Linked DNA regions of Homo sapiens. The protein of the gene in region 1 interacts with the protein of each later gene in a biochemical or structural test. Each region holds a gene or a part of one and is shown on either strand. Other genes may lie near its edges. The genes, in order: DHRS12 and POLI.

Region 1 (3,921 bases):
ATACTGCCCTTTGTTTGTGTGTGTGTGTTACTTGGCATCCAGGTGAGAGTGGAAGCTCATTTTGAGACAGGGTTTGGCTTTTCCTAAGACCTCCTCTTTAAATGTATATAATGTATACACTAACTACCTCGTGGATGCTTGATTTGAGGCTAACACTGGACACCTCATGCCCTCATGGAAATTTCTTGAATGTACACTGCATGGCTGTAAGCGCAGGGGAAAAAGGAATGAGAAGAAAACTTAAGGAGGGAAACCAACACTTCTGATCACTTTGTATGAAACTAAGCTCTTTATAATGAATGCCTTTAATCACAACCACCCCACGAGGTGCGCATATTCATTCCCATTTTACATATTAAGAAACCAAGACTGAGGGTGTATGCAGCATGCTCAGGTTCACCTGGCTAATGCAGAGAGCTGGGTTTGCAGCCACACTTTTACTTCAAGGGGCTGCTGACACCCTCCAAGAGACTTGGTGGTTCAAAACTATTTCTCATCCCCTCTCTGCGAGCCAAAAGCCTATTTCCTGAGGTGTTCAGAGAGATTCAGAGCAGATTGACACCTTTTCCATCACTGACACAAAGAGGAGGGTATAAAAAACAGTATGTAGCCCTGGGGATCTAAAATATTTTCCCAGCCAAATCGGACAGGCATTGAAAGTCACACAGGCTGGGGTGGTTTTACAAAATGCCACTTGTTTAAATTTCCTTTCATCACTCTGTCAGGAATAACAGCAACGTAGTGGAGCCTCAGAGTCCTGTTGAGAGGGGCGAGCTGTTCCGGGGAAATTTATTTCAAAAGTTATTCTGAAGTAAAAACTTGCCCACTGTGGAGTGAGGTTGGACAGTGATCCTATATCCTAGGTAATGAGGCTATTAAAGCAGCTGGTCTCTTCAGCTTATGTAAGTGGGGCCCAGTCTCTGGGCGACTTGGGTAAACCGGTATAGAATTTAACAGGGTGACTAGGAGTGACAGCAGCAGTAAGACCCCCATTTCTAATGTGGCGTTAGGGCTGGAGGTTAGATGTGGACAGGGGTGTCTGAGTCCTACATAATGGGGCTGGATGACTAGTCTGAGATCTGGGTTCACGCAGCAACCACACTCTTTTTTACTCACACTGTTCATCTGGGCTTGGGTGGAAAGAGGCTGATGAGGATTTGGGGGAAATCAAGGGGCTCTCCCTGGCATTGCATGAAGTCGCAGAACCAGTGGCAAAAGTCCAACTTTGGAGACAATTACTTCTCGGGTGGGAGCCCCAGCCCTGCCTCTTGCCTGCGATGTCGCCAATCTGACTGCGCTTGCTGGAGACGGGAAATGTGGCACGGCACTGCATCCCCCAACACGTGTAGAAACTTAGAGAATGCCAGTTATTAAAATAACCCTTATGATAACACCAATTCGATGCAGAAGTCTTTTAAATATCATAAGCCTCGTCGTTTTATTCCACATGGTTTTCTAGGTAACCAAATTCTAGGAGGTGCGTTGCAGGGCCATCTTCGCATCCCGGCCATGCCCAGCAGGACGGTGTTCTCTAAACGGCGCTGATGCCCGATTTCGACCCCGAGGAGACTGCGGACCTCGACTGCGGCCCCCACCAGGGCCGGTCCGCCCTCACTCCACCCTCTGAGGCTGGGGCGGAGTCGACCGGCCGGCCCCGAGACCCCTTGCCTTACCGGTGGAGCAAGGAACCGGAAGCCGCGGCTCTTACATAACCGGGATGATGTCAGGGCGGGCGACTCCCGGGGGGCGGGACCAGGGCGGAGGCCGCGCCGGGAGCGCGGTGGGGCTAGGCGTGGGGCGCTCCCGGCATGTCCCTGTACCGCAGCGTCGTGTGGTTCGCCAAGGGGCTGCGCGAGTACACCAAGTAAGGCGGCGCGGCGGGGCGCGGGGCCCCGGGCTGTCACGTGGCCCGCCTCGGCGCGGGCGAGCAGGGTTGGCGGGGACGCGCCCGCGGCTCCTTCGCCCTCTCGCTGGGCCGACTAAGCGTGTCCAGAACGACGGGTGCGCCCGCCGTCTAGCGACCCACGGCTGGGCGTGGGGCAGTCGCCAGACTCCAGCCGCTCAATGCCCGCGACCGAGACTGGCGCCCGAGGGGCGGGGCTGTGGCGCGCCCAAGCCCAGGGCCGTCCCACTGACGTCAGGCGGCCCCGGCGCCAAGGAGCCTCTTGGGCGGCACCTCGGCGCCCCGCTGGGTGTGCTCGTGGAAGTGTCTTCGTGGTGCTGCTGGCGGCGTCAGATAGGGCTGGATCTAAATCGCTAGCTAAGGCTCTGTCCTAGTGCCTTTGGGTGTGTTTCCTTTAAAAAGATGCAGCACCTGGACTGCGACCTTTGGCTCCAGCTGGAACTTTCCAGCCAGTGTGTGCTTCTGGGGAACGGTGCGTGGTGGTTTCGTCGCCCCGTGACCACGCTCAGTGTGCCCTAGTTGGCTCTCCACCTCATTGTGGTTTTAAGAGGTGACAGGTTCCTGTGACGGAGGAGAGATGGAGGTTTTCTCTTAGAATTGATTAGGCTAACCGCTGGTTCTCAACCCTGTCTGCACATCAGAATCACTGGGCGAGAATTAAAAGTACCCAGTTTTCAGGCCCCATCCCTACAGATTCTGATTTAGTGGATCTGCACAGGGGCCTGGACTGGCATTTCATCCAAATGCCCCAGGTGATTCTCACCTCTGAGAGGCTTCTCCCTGCACTGGGGCTTTATCAGTTCCCACGGCAACCTGGCCAGCACTCCTAGGGGAGGTAGGAGTTGCAACTCCCTGCTCTTCACCCCACATCGTTTTGGAGAAGGTTCAGCTCTGTCTCAGGAGCCCCTGCTGCAGAGAATGGTGGGGAGTGTAGTCGTGAGCCCTGTCCCACAGTTTTTAGGGGAATACAGTGGCAGCCTCTTTCTTTCAAAGGGGTGTCCTCTGGCAATGACCATTAATTGCTGGATCTTTCCACATTACACAGCATGAAAGCTTAAGTCAGTTTCCAACCAGGGGTGGGCCCCAAGGAAAGCAGACTGTAAAAATTTCTCCCAGGACTCTTTCGCTCTGATTTCCCCACCTTGAGGGAAGGTAGAAGTGAGGCCAAGGGGCCCAATCCACCACAGATTGGTGGGGGAAGGGAGGGGAGGGGAAGGCAGTTGGCAAAGTTAGATGGGTTTTCCTGCTGTTGTGGATTTAGTGAATAGGAGAGAAAAACAACAACCTTGTTTTGACTTCAGTGTGAGAGCGCGGAGTTAGAGTTTACAACGTTTCTCTTGGCACAAGGATTTTTATAAAGCCTCCCTATATTGGGCTCCTAAGGCAGGAGGATCTAATCACTGTTTCCTAAACTTTGCTGAACCTAATAATTCCCTGGGGCAGTTTTAAACAGACTCCTAAACCCTGGGCAAGTGTGGATGGGTCCTAAGCAAATTTCATATTTGGGTAAATTGAGGGTGTGGGGAGACACAGATACCTGCCAGCTTCCTCCTCCCCATCCCTGTCACCTCAGCTTCAGGAAACAGTAAGTACAAATGTCCTCTCAGCTTGAGTCAAAATCACTGGCAAGGCACATGAAACCACAGGTTGCCAAGCAATCACTTCTGAGTCAGTAGGCAGGGCATTTCCAACAGGTTTCCAGATGATGCTGATGCAGCTTGTCTGGGGACTGCCCTTTGGCACCGAGGCTGGGTGTTGAAGAAGATCACCTACCTTCTGGTGACCTTGGGAAAGTCGTGTGTGTGTGTGTGTGTGTGTGTGTGTGTGTGTGTGTGTGTGTGTGTGAAAAATAGAGACTGATATCTAGAGACTGATTTCTAGAGTGAAAATAAAATGCTTCCCCAATAAGGGGCAGAGTACATAAAAGACAAGTCTTATTAACAACAGATCGGACCAGGATGGAATTCTTGTATGGAAGGCAAGATCCAAGGCAGAGGACAGAGGGCGGGGACATGTCC
Region 2 (3,821 bases), on another chromosome or scaffold:
CTTCCTTACACCTTATACAAAAGTTAACTCAAGATGGATTAAAGACTTAAATGTTAGAACTGAAATCATAAAAACCCTAGAAGAAAACCTAGGCAATAGCATTTAGTACATAAGCATGGGCAAAGACCTCATGACTAAAACACCAAAAGCAATGGCAACAAAAGCCAAAATTGACAGATGGGACCTAATTAAACTAAAGAGCTTCTGCACAGCAAAAGAAACTATCAGCAGAGTGAACAGGCAACCTACAGAATGGGAGAAAATTTTTGCAATCTACCCATCTGACAAAGGGCTAATATCCAGAATCTACAAAGAAGTTAAACAAATTTACAAGAAAAAAGCAAACAACCCCATCAAAAAGTGGGCAAAGGATATGAACAGACACTTTTCAAAAGAAGACATTTATGCTGCCAACAGACATATGAAAAAATGCTCATCATTGCTGGTCATTAGAGAAATACAAATCAAAACCACAATGAGATACCAGCTCATGCCAGTTAGAATGGCGATCATTAAAAAGTCAGGAAACAACAGATGCTGGAGAGGATGTGGAGAAATAGGAACACTTTTACACTGTTGGTGGGAGTGTAAATTAGTTCAACCATTGTGGATGACAGTGTGGTGATTCCTCAAGGATCTAGAACTAGAAATACCATTTGACCCAGTGATCCCATTACTGGGTATATACCCAAAAGATTATAAATCATGCTACTATAAAGACACATGCACGCGTATGTTTATTGTGGCACTATTCACAATAGCAAAGACTTGGAACCAACCCAAATGTCCATCAGTAATAGACTGGATAAAGAAAACGTGTCACATATACATCATGGAATACTATGCAGCCATAAAAAAGGATGAGTTCATGTCCTTTGCAAGGACATGGATGAAGCTGGAAACCATCATTCTCAGCAAACTATCACCAGGATAGAAAACCACACACCACATGTTCTCACTCATAAGTGGGAGTTGAACAACGAGGACACATGGACACAGGGAGGAGAACATCACACACCGGGGCCTATCTGGATGGAGGGCTGAGGGAGGGATAGCATTAGGAGAAATACCTAATGTAAATGAAGAGTTGATAGGTGTAGCAAACTAACACGGTACATGTATACCTATGTAACAAATCTGCACATTGTGCACATGAACCCCAGAACTTAAAGTATAAAAGAAAAAAAATTAGGCCATTTTCAAGTTTTTCTTGAATTTTAATTTCTGCTAGGCCCTCTTTATCTCCCCATGATGTGCATGTAGCCCTTTCAGTAAGGAGTGTATGGGGAGCTTGGGCCCTCTGTGGCCTTCCATTTATTTGCATGTAGCCTCCTAGTCAACTAGGGTTGTACGGGGAGCCTATGTAGTCCCTCTTTGGTTCTCTCATTTCCAAATCTCCTGGTGACATATCTGGCTGGTCCACTGATCTGTCCTTCACCCGAACCACGACTGAAGCTTCAGACTAGCAGAGCTGTGGGATCTTCCCATTCGTTTCCTATCAAATTTGCTCATTTTACTGGCAACACTGCTGAGTGTGGGCTTTTGCCCACTGCCTCAAATCAGGTCTGTCCCCTCTGGAAGTGAAACTGCTGGCTTTTGCAGCCTTCACCCTGTACCAACTGAGCTATGTAAAGGGACATTCGAACAGTCCCAGACAGTGAAGCTGCTATCTCCTACTTTCTTAGCTAACATATAGCAGCTGTTCATAGATCAGTACTTCTCACTTTGTTTGCCTTTGGTTCATTTCCAGATTTCCACCAAAATGATTGTTTTTGACAATGTTGTTCAGTTTTATAGTAGCTTTTTGAGAGAGGATTTTCTGACCATATCAGTGTAGTATAACCAGAAATCCCATATTTCAAATCTTTTGAAAATTTTTAACCATTTAGTATTAATATTGAAATGTCTTAATTTGGTATATAATGTCAAGATGCCCAGTGATATTTAGGATTTTAATTTCTTAATCTCAGCAATATAAAATATATTATGCTCTTAATATTAATTATAATGTTTATTCTTAAACATTTTATTTAGGAAATTATGATGTGATGACCCCAATGGTTGATATACTTATGAAACTTTTTCGAAATATGGTGAATGTGAAGATGCCATTTCACCTTACCCTTCTAAGTGTGTGCTTCTGCAACCTTAAAGCACTAAATACTGCTAAGAAAGGGCTTATTGATTATTATTTAATGCCATCATTATCAACTACTTCACGCTCTGGCAAGCACAGTTTTGTAAGTACACTCTTTTTTGTTCAGTTTTCTAAGTATACTCTTATGGGATTTGTGTGGTTACATTACAAATCTAAGTGCTTGTCTTTTTGATATAGTTTAGAGATTCTTTTGGGTGATATTGTTTAGGTGATTAACTTGTTTATAATACCTATCTTATGGTTTCTGGCCTTAAATATGCTGTGATCTAAGAAGAAAACATAAGCATCACTGGATAAAAGAGAGAACCATTATGGAGGTTCTCTATTTTGGAATTGTTAACACATTTTATAGTATATAAAAATATGATGGATTAGCTCATAAGTATTAAAATATTTGCAGATATTAGAAATCACATCTTTTTGTCTTTTAGCTGACACATGAGCTACTAGTACCTTTCCCATGATTCTTTTGTTAAAGTATTTACATTTTCTTCATTTTGAAATAGTATTGAATTTTGATAGCAATATTGATAGATTTGACTACTGATTTCATAGTTGTAAAGTTAACAGTGTGGCAATAGAAAGGCAGAGGCCAGTCACATTTTCAGACGACTAAAACAAAACCCTTTTATTAATAGACAAACCACTATTTAGTAAATGTGGGTTGCCTTAAAAACAATTATTTTTTACTAAATTGTTCATGCCTATAATTAACTCAATTTAAAATACTTTTGTGTTTGTTTAGTCAGTATAATTTTAGTAACCTTTTCATTTTCATTTAAGTTTAAAGTGAGAACAGGATAGTGTATGGAAATAGTGAATTAATGCTCTCTTCAAATTACTTTTTTCTGTGACCCTTCTTATTCCATTTATTAAATTTAAAAAAGTGTTTTCTTTTTACATTTTAATTAATCTGTGAAATTGGAATTAAAAGTGCTCATTTATAGTGGCATTAGAAAAGTAAATATAAGTGAAAGTACCTTGTATGTATTTGTCACACAGTAGGTAGTCAATAAATATAAGGGCCTGAATCTTTTCTACTACTTTTACTTTTTTGGAGTTCATATTGTGTTGATGTTTACGGAGTTATATTTGACTATGTTTATATTTTTATGGTGCTTGAAACTAAAGGATTTAAATGAAAAACTGTATAGAAAAATTATGCAAGTTAGAGTTGAAAGTGTCTTTAAATTTTTATTTTATATAAATATAAACTAGTACTATATCTTGATGATGTTGGGTTTTGTTATAGGCTTTTTTTTTCTTTTTGTTAAAAGTTACCCTTTAGAATAGTAATTTTTGGAAAACTAGCCCTTGATGCTATATGTGTATGTTTTTTTGAAAAATACCCTTAGGTGAACTTGCTTTTCTAGGCCGCCATTCTTTTATTTATAGAATTGAAAGTTTGGTTGCATGATTGTTACAATCTTCCCAGGTCTCCAAATGCATATTTACCTCTGTCTCAGTGCTATCTAGGAAGGAAACCTCTTCCTGGAATAGTGGGTAGAGATTCACAAAATAGTGTGAATAATTGTGGTAGTAGATCTCTAGTTGTTTGGAACTGGCCACAAAGAGTTGTATTTGTTGAGTAGGTTAGAAACATGTCAGATAATAGCTACAGGCACACAGCAGCAGCAGCGATATTTAAAAGATATCAGATATG

The links.
Region 2: the proteins of DHRS12 (region 1) and POLI form a complex in vitro, tested with the Homo sapiens proteins (one large-scale study listed by BioGRID).

Annotation. Positions count from the first base shown.
Region 1 is NC_000013.11:51,801,997-51,805,917, reverse strand, and holds the start of DHRS12 (dehydrogenase/reductase SDR family member 12), read left to right. Parts: upstream 1-1,754; 5' UTR 1,755-1,808; coding exon of another isoform or gene 1,809-1,864; exon of another isoform or gene 1,865-2,082; intron 2,083-2,182; exon of another isoform or gene 2,183-2,375; intron 2,376-3,921. UniProt on the Homo sapiens protein: Putative oxidoreductase.
Region 2 is NC_000018.10:54,289,799-54,293,619, forward strand, and holds part of POLI (DNA polymerase iota isoform a (long)), read left to right. Parts: intron 1-2,034; coding exon 2,035-2,240; intron 2,241-3,821. UniProt on the Homo sapiens protein: Error-prone DNA polymerase specifically involved in DNA repair. Plays an important role in translesion synthesis, where the normal high-fidelity DNA polymerases cannot proceed and DNA synthesis stalls. Favors Hoogsteen base-pairing in the active site.